Homo sapiens: one gene and its partner. The protein of the gene in region 1 purifies or fractionates together with the protein of each later gene. This does not show direct contact. Each region holds a gene or a part of one and is shown on either strand. Other genes may lie near its edges.

The links. The genes of interacting proteins can lie anywhere in the genome.
Region 2: the proteins of RPH3A (region 1) and RAB8A purify together in Homo sapiens (affinity purification with mass spectrometry; 2 studies listed by BioGRID and IntAct, with this or other methods). This does not show direct contact.

What each region holds. Positions count from the first base shown.
Region 1 is NC_000012.12:112,798,224-112,801,871, forward strand, and holds part of RPH3A (rabphilin-3A), read left to right. Parts: intron 1-3,648. UniProt on the Homo sapiens protein: Plays an essential role in docking and fusion steps of regulated exocytosis.
Region 2 is NC_000019.10:16,118,241-16,121,888, forward strand, and holds part of RAB8A (ras-related protein Rab-8A), read left to right. Parts: coding exon 1-46; intron 47-3,509; coding exon 3,510-3,570; intron 3,571-3,598; exon of another isoform or gene 3,599-3,648. UniProt on the Homo sapiens protein: The small GTPases Rab are key regulators of intracellular membrane trafficking, from the formation of transport vesicles to their fusion with membranes.

The DNA of each region.
Region 1 (3,648 bases):
AGCTGGGTTTTTTACCACCCCCTGCAATTAATCAACAAGAGGAAACTCATCTGACAGCATCATAATGATGTTTGGTTCATGAAGGATTTATTTAGAGAGCGAGGGGGGGAAATATCTTCTCATCTCTCAATATAATCTGAGTGAGTTCATTCAGCTGCATTTTTCTTTCTTTTTCCTCTCTTTCTTTTCCTTTTCTTCCTTTTTAATGCACCTACACAATGACGAGTGGTGACTTGTGAATGGAAGCAGCTTTCAGCAGAGAACATATTATGTAAGCAGGTTTTGGTGCCAGCCATTGATGGCGGGGCGGCATTCTGGGGCTGCAGAGAAGAGAGATGGTTTCTCGAAGTTCGTTGGGAGGCTTTTCATGCAAGGTGCTGCCAAATGGCATCTGTGTGGTCCGCTCCATTGCACATCTTCCTCCCTGCCCCCTTTCCCCTTTCCGTCTCTGCCTTCCTGTGTTTTTCCTCTGTCACTGTGGTGCTAAGCCCCTAAGTCTCTGTCTTTATCTCTCCCCCTCTCTCTCCTTTTTCCCTGCCCCTGTCTCCTTACTTTTCCCACCCCTTAAATAATTCCCTGCTTTCTCCTTGCAGTCTCTCTTTTCTCCCCATCTTTCCCTCTCTCCCTTTCTCTCTCCTCTGCCCCTGGCCTCTCTTCCTTTCCTTTTCTCTCTCTCTCTCCGTCTTCCTCCTCTCCTAACTCCTCTGCCTTCCTCATCTCATCTTTAAGACACACAGAAATTACTTGTAAAGGGAATGCATTTGTGAATTCATGAGACTCCAGGTGATGAGGGCTCCAAGTAGGGTCACCAACCATTCAGCTTTGCTTGGAGCTGAAGGGGGTCCTGGGATATAGGACTTTGTGTTAAAACTGAGAGGCAGACCAGGGATGATGGCTCGCACTTGTAAATCCCTGCACTTTGGGAAGCCAGGGCAGGAAGATCGCTTGGAGCCAGGAGTTTGAGACCAGCCTGGGCAACATGTGAGACTCCTGTCTCTATAAAAAAGTTAAACAATTAGCTGGGCATGGTGGCACACACCTGTAGTCCCAGCTACTTGGGAGGCTGAGGCAGGAGGATCACTTGAGCCCAGGAGGCTGAGGCTACTGTGAGCTGTGGTTGTGCCACTGTACTACAGCCTCGGTGACAGGGTGAGACCCTGTGTCTAAAACAAAACAAAACAACAACAAAAAAGAATGGAAAGAGTACTGGGCAAACTGTGATGAGTTGGTCATCTTACCTCCAAGCCAAATGCTTGGAATTTTGTAGAATTTTCAAAAAGCCAAAGATTCAGCTTTCTGGGTGAGTTGCCTGCCTTTCTGCTCTGGTGGCACACAGTGGTTCTGAAGCCCTCCCAGGCTTGGCATTCTCTGCATGGCTCCGGCATGGACTATCTAGACACACAAAGGCCTTTCCCTCAGAGCTCAGAGGTCAGTCATGGGCAGGAGACTTACTCCCTTCACCTTCCCTAACCCCTGTCCCTGACAAGACTGATCACCCAGCTAGTTATTCGCTCATTGGTCACCCGGGGGATATAGGGTAGAGATTGCAGATGGTTCAATGCCCAAGCTTCTCAAACTTGAGCCTGCATCAGAACCCCTTGCAGGAGTTGTTAAAACACGGAGTTTGTGATTCAGTGGGACTAGGATGGAGCCTAAGAATTTGCACATCAAACGAGTTCCCAGGCAGTGTTGATGCTGCTGGCCCAGGGACCACACTGTGAGAACCCCTGCTCTAGACTCATTCCCCCATTCCCTCCTTTCCAGACAAGTCTTGTACACTGTTCTAGGCACTGCAGACTCAGCAGTGAGGGAGCCGGAGTTCCCTGCCCCCTGAAGCCGACAGCCCAGTGGGTGGCAAAACCAATAAACAAGTAAACACATAAACAAGAAAACTCCAGACCGCGTGAAGTGCCATGAAGGAAGGAGATAGGAAGACTCGATGGAGAATGACAAGTGATGGGTTGGGGGAGGGAGGGGCGAGACTAACTTATAAAAACAGCAGCCAGTGGAGGCTGAGTTTCTAGGAGGAAATAGCCATGAGTAGATGGTGAAGGGAGGGATGAGCCACACCTGGGAAGTGGGGGCAGTAAGTGCAAAAGCAGAGACAACTGTGGTGGCCCCAAGGGACAGACAGTCGGCTGGTGTGAGTGGGGTGAGGGTCACGTGATGGGGACAAAGGGAGACAGGAACAACAGGTTCAGATCAGGACCTCCAGATCTGGTTAGACAGGACCTCCCAGGGTAGCCAAGGAGTCTGGGTTCGATTTTATTTTGCAGGGAGCGTTTTATGCTAGAGTGATGTGACCTAATTTACAATGTTAGTAATGATTGTTTTGGTCTCTGAGTGGAGAGGGGAGTGCAGGAGGTGGGATGGAAGCCAGGGGACCAGTGAGGGGAGCTGTGATGGGGCAGGGACCAGGTGGTAGCAGAGAAGAAGGTGGTGACATTTGGGGTGAATTCTGCGGGAGTGCAGACGGGCTTTACTGATGGATCAGACATAAGGGGAGAAGGCCAGAGCAATCAGGGTCCACTCCAGTGGGACTGGAACTATTCCTGGCAATGGTGCAGCAGTTGTGATCCTGGGGACATGGAGAGGGGCCTTGGCTGTAACCAAGGGCCAATGGGTTAAGAGACAAGAACCCAGCAGTGTGTGCAGAGTCAAGGCCGTTCAGGGAGCTCTGCAAATGCCCGTTCCACGCTAGCTAAAATGCACGGTTCCCCTCTCCCCGGAAGAAAAGGCAGCAGCGTGGGTTTTTTGTTTTTTTTTCTTTTCTCTCCCATGAATAGTGGCTGGATTAATCTATCAGCATGAAGCAGGATATCGTAACTTGGCAAAGGGGATGACACCCTGTGAAGTGGCAAGCTGGGGTGTCTGGCCAAGCCTTTCTCCAGGGGCTGCGGGAAAGGCTGCTGGATGTGATGGAAGACGTGAGCTTCTGGTGTCTGCAGCTTCCTCTCTGATCTGATCTGAACCTGTTGTTCCTGGAGCTAGCTAGGCCCATTCAAAAAAGAACCAGCCGGACTGGGCTTGCACCTAAGGATGAAAGCAGGAGAAGCCAGCATTTGGAGCAGGAGCTGGGCCCTTGGCGGGGAAGGAGACTCATCACACAGAGCATGCAGCAGGCTTGCCTTTCAGATAGAACCTGCCGCTGTTTCTGTAGATGTTCTTTCTTCCTTTTTCTTTTCCTTGGAAGGGTTTATCTGACTGGGCAGGCCTATGTAGCCAGCCTTGGCCAACTTCCGCAGAGGGGTCCAGGCATGTCTTCTCATCTGAACGATGGATAAGTGCTTCGAGGAAAGCTCCCGAGGGAGAAATAAATGGTGCACACTCGTGTTGGTGACCCGGAGGGGGACTGTGGTTTTAATTATAATGAGAGGGGAACTGGCCTCATTTGTAGCCTGTCTGTTATTCACGGAGGACTCTTGGGCTTTGTAGATTAGAAGAATCTTTGTTAGGGTGCGAGATGATGAGAGTTGAGTTATTTTTCCCTTCCTGGTACACAGCCATCATTGATCCTTGCCCGCCTCTTCCTCCATTTTTCATTATTTATCCTCTTTTTTCCTCATACCCCATTCCCCTCCATTCATAGACAACCCTATTCTACTCTGTTTATGCGTATTTCTATTGCTTGTATATGTCCCTTCAAAA
Region 2 (3,648 bases), on another chromosome or scaffold:
TTAGGACCATAGAGCTCGATGGCAAGAGAATTAAACTGCAGATATGGTAAGAGTCATTGTTCTCTGTCATTCTCTCCACCTGGCAATGGCTTCAAGCCAGAAGCCCTTGGCCTTCTCCCTCCACCGTCCCTGTGACCTTGGCCTCCATTTCTTGGTGCCCAGTCCTGGCACATGGGGCTTTCTCCAGAAGCTCCTGGAGGTTTATACCCAGCCCAGAGAGCTGTCCTCTGCTGGCTGCAGGGCACCAGGGCCTACAGCATCATAGGCACAAAGCTGCCCAGCCCTGGCTAGCTCAGTGTTCCACAGTGGGCACCATCTGGGTCTGGCCTTCAGAGTGGGCTGCTTCTGTTGAACGGGAAGAGAGCCCTCTCAGTGCCAGGTGCTGGTGACGCCTGCAGGGACTGTGAGATGCCCCAGCCGAGAGTTTCCTTTTGAGCCTCTCAACCCACTCAGAAGCATAAAGGTCCAACTTCACTTCCTCTTTTCTCCCCTGGGGCAGGCCTGGCCTCCCTTCCTAGCGTACAGACCGAAACCCCAAACCGAAATTAAGCGGAGGGCCGGGCCCCATGTTGAGACCTGTTTCCATTCCTGAGAACTAAGGGTGACTTCCCATGCACATACAATTAGGGAAGTGGGGAGACTCCAAGTCGCCATCGCTGGCCTGATTCTAGTTTGCTGAGACTGAGTTCAGGTGGCGGGTATAGTGGGGTCCTGCCCTGCACACATGCCACTCGCACAGAGTCACTGGCCCTGAGCAAAACAAAGAGAAGTCACATTTAAGAGCATGGTGCAATTTCCCTGTCACCCAAACCAGGCAAGTGCCTTTGAGTGGGAGCAGTGTGCCAGGAGATGGGCCACGAAGTCATCCTCCCTCAAGTCTCAAAGTTTGACCGGTCACCCCCACTTGCCAGTTTCAGGGAGCCCCACAGCTACCCTTGACTCCAGGTGCTATTCACCTCTTCTTTTTTTTTCTTCTTTTTTTGAGACGGAGTTTCGCTCTTGTCGCCTAGGCTGGAGTGCAATGGCGCGATCTTGTCTCACCGCAACCTCTGCCCCCCGGGTTCAAGTGATTCTCCTGCCTCAGCCTCCCAAGTAGCTGGTATTACAGGCATGCACCACCACGCCCAACTAATTTTGTATTTTTAGTAGAGACGGGGTTTCTCCATGTTGGTCAGGCTGGTCTCCAACTCCCGACCTCAGGTGACCCACCCACCTCGGCCTCCCAAAGTGCTGGGATTATAGGCGTGAGCCACCACGCCCGGCCCTACTGTTCACCTCTTAATCTGACTTTGGGAGTCGGGTAGGTTTAACTTGCAGTTCATCCTGCAGACATTGGTAGTAAGTCAAGCTCTGGCTGCCTTGTAAGTTCCAAGCCATGGAAGTTTCTCCACTTCCAGCACGTTGGTGCCATGTCACCCTTTGTTCCCAAGTCCAAAGTGACACTGCATCAGCAAGCAGAAGTTTCACTTTCCTCCTGCCTTCCTGCTTCTGCTCTTAGCAATCGTGGTGAGGTTAGTGACTCAAAACTCTTCTAAGGACTGTAGTTGAAAAAAAAATGACTGGTTTTTTTTTTTGTTTCTTTGTTTTTTTGAGACAGAGTTTTGCTCTTGTTGCCCAGGCTGGAGTGCAGTGGCACGATTTTGGCTCACTGCAACCTCCGCCTCCTGGGTTCAGGCAATTCTTCTGCCTCGGCCTCCCAAGTAGCTGGGATTACAGGTGCCTGCCACCACGCTCGGCTAATTTTGTATTTTTAGTAGAGACGGGGTTTCGCCATGTTGGCCAGGTTGGCTTCGAACCCCTGAATTCAGGTGATCCACCCGCCTCGGCCTCCCAAAGTGCTGGAATTACAGGCGTGAGCCACCGCACCTGGCAAAAATGACTGTTTTTAACCACTCATGTCTCCTGCTGCTGGTGTCAGAAAGTCAGCTTAGCTCCAAGCAAGGTGTTTCTGCACAATCCAGACGTATAGAGCCCTCCGGGTCCCAGCAGGGCCGTGGGAGGAACCCTGGGCTTGGAGACAAAAGACCTGAGTCTTGCCCTGGCTCTGTCACCAATCAGTTAGGTCACCTTTAATTTTTTTTTTTTTTTTTTTGACAAAGTCTCACTCTGTCACCCAGGCTGGAGTGCAGTGGCATGATCTCAGCTCACTGCAACCTCCACTTCCTTGGTTCAAGCAATTCTCGTGCTTCAGCTTCCCGAGTAGCTGGGATTACAGGCACCTGCCACCATGCCTGGCTAACTTTTGTATTTTTAGTAGACAGGGTTTCACCATGTTGGTCAGGCTGATCTCAAACTCCTGACCTCAGGTGATCTGCTGGCCTCAGCCTCCCAAAGTGCTGAGATTACGGGAGTGAGCCAACACGCCTGGCTTTTTTTTTTTTTTTTCCTGAGACAGAGTCTTACTCTGTCACCCATGCTGGAATATAGCGGCACGATCTCAGGTCACTGCAACCTCCACCTCCCAGGTTCAAGCGATTGTTGTGTCTCGGCCTCCTAAGTAGCTGGGACTACAGATCCACGCCATCATGCCCGCCTAATTTTTGTATTTTTAGTAGAGATGAGGTTTCATTGTGTTGGTCAGGCCGGTCTCGAACTCCTGGCCTCAGGTGATCCACCCGCCTCGGCCTCTTAAAGTGCTGGGATTACAGATGTAAGCCACTGCACCAGGCCAGTTAGGTTACCTTTTTTTTTTTTGAGACGGAGTCTTGCTCTGTCACCCAGGCTGGAGTACAGTGGTGCAATCTCGGCTCACTGCAGCCTCCACCTCCTGGGTTCCAGCAGTTCTCCTGCCTCAGCCTCCCAGGTAGCTGGGATTACAGGCACGTGCCACCATGCCTGGCTAATTTTTGTATTTTTTGTAGGGACGGGGTTTCACCAAGTTGGCCAGGCTGGTCTCAACCTCCTGACCTCAGGTGGTCCACCTGCCTCGGCCTCCCAAAGTGCTAGGATTACAGATGTGAGCCACTGCGCCCGGCCAGTTAGGTTACCTACCTTTAAACCAAACACTAAGTACCCTTCAAGCCAGGAGCTGGACTGGGCATGGGTATGTCTTACCCAGGCATCACCTCCCGGGCAATAGGCCCTGTGTTCCTTGTCATGCAGATGAGGAGGGACTTTCCCCATCATTCAAACCAAGATGGCAGGCCTGAAAGCTTTTCCTGAGTCCCAGCCACCCTCAACAGCAAGAGCTATGTTCCTGAGCCACATGACTGGCTCTTCTGTGAACCAGAAACTCCAGGGAGAATTCCCTGGAAGCAAAGGTGCAGAAGAGGAGAAGGCGCATGGGTCAGGGATCCCATCATGGCTCTGCCACATCAAATGACCCCTCCAGGCCACAGTGTCCTTCCCTGTAATAATAGGGAGATTAGAAGGTGCTGCCTTAGCAGAAGAAGGTATCACAGTGGCTGAACGGTGAGAAAGCCAGGCATCCCGGGTAGATGCTCCTTGTCTCCTACTGAGGACAGTTATTTTCCTTTAATGTTGCTAATATCCCTTCTCTTCATGTTTAGGGACACAGCCGGTCAGGAACGGTTTCGGACGATCACAACGGCCTACTACAGGGGTGCAATGGTAGGGACTTTTTGTTTGGTTGTTTTTATCTGCTTTTTAAGTCAACATGGGAGCGTCACTGTGCATTGGTTACCGAAG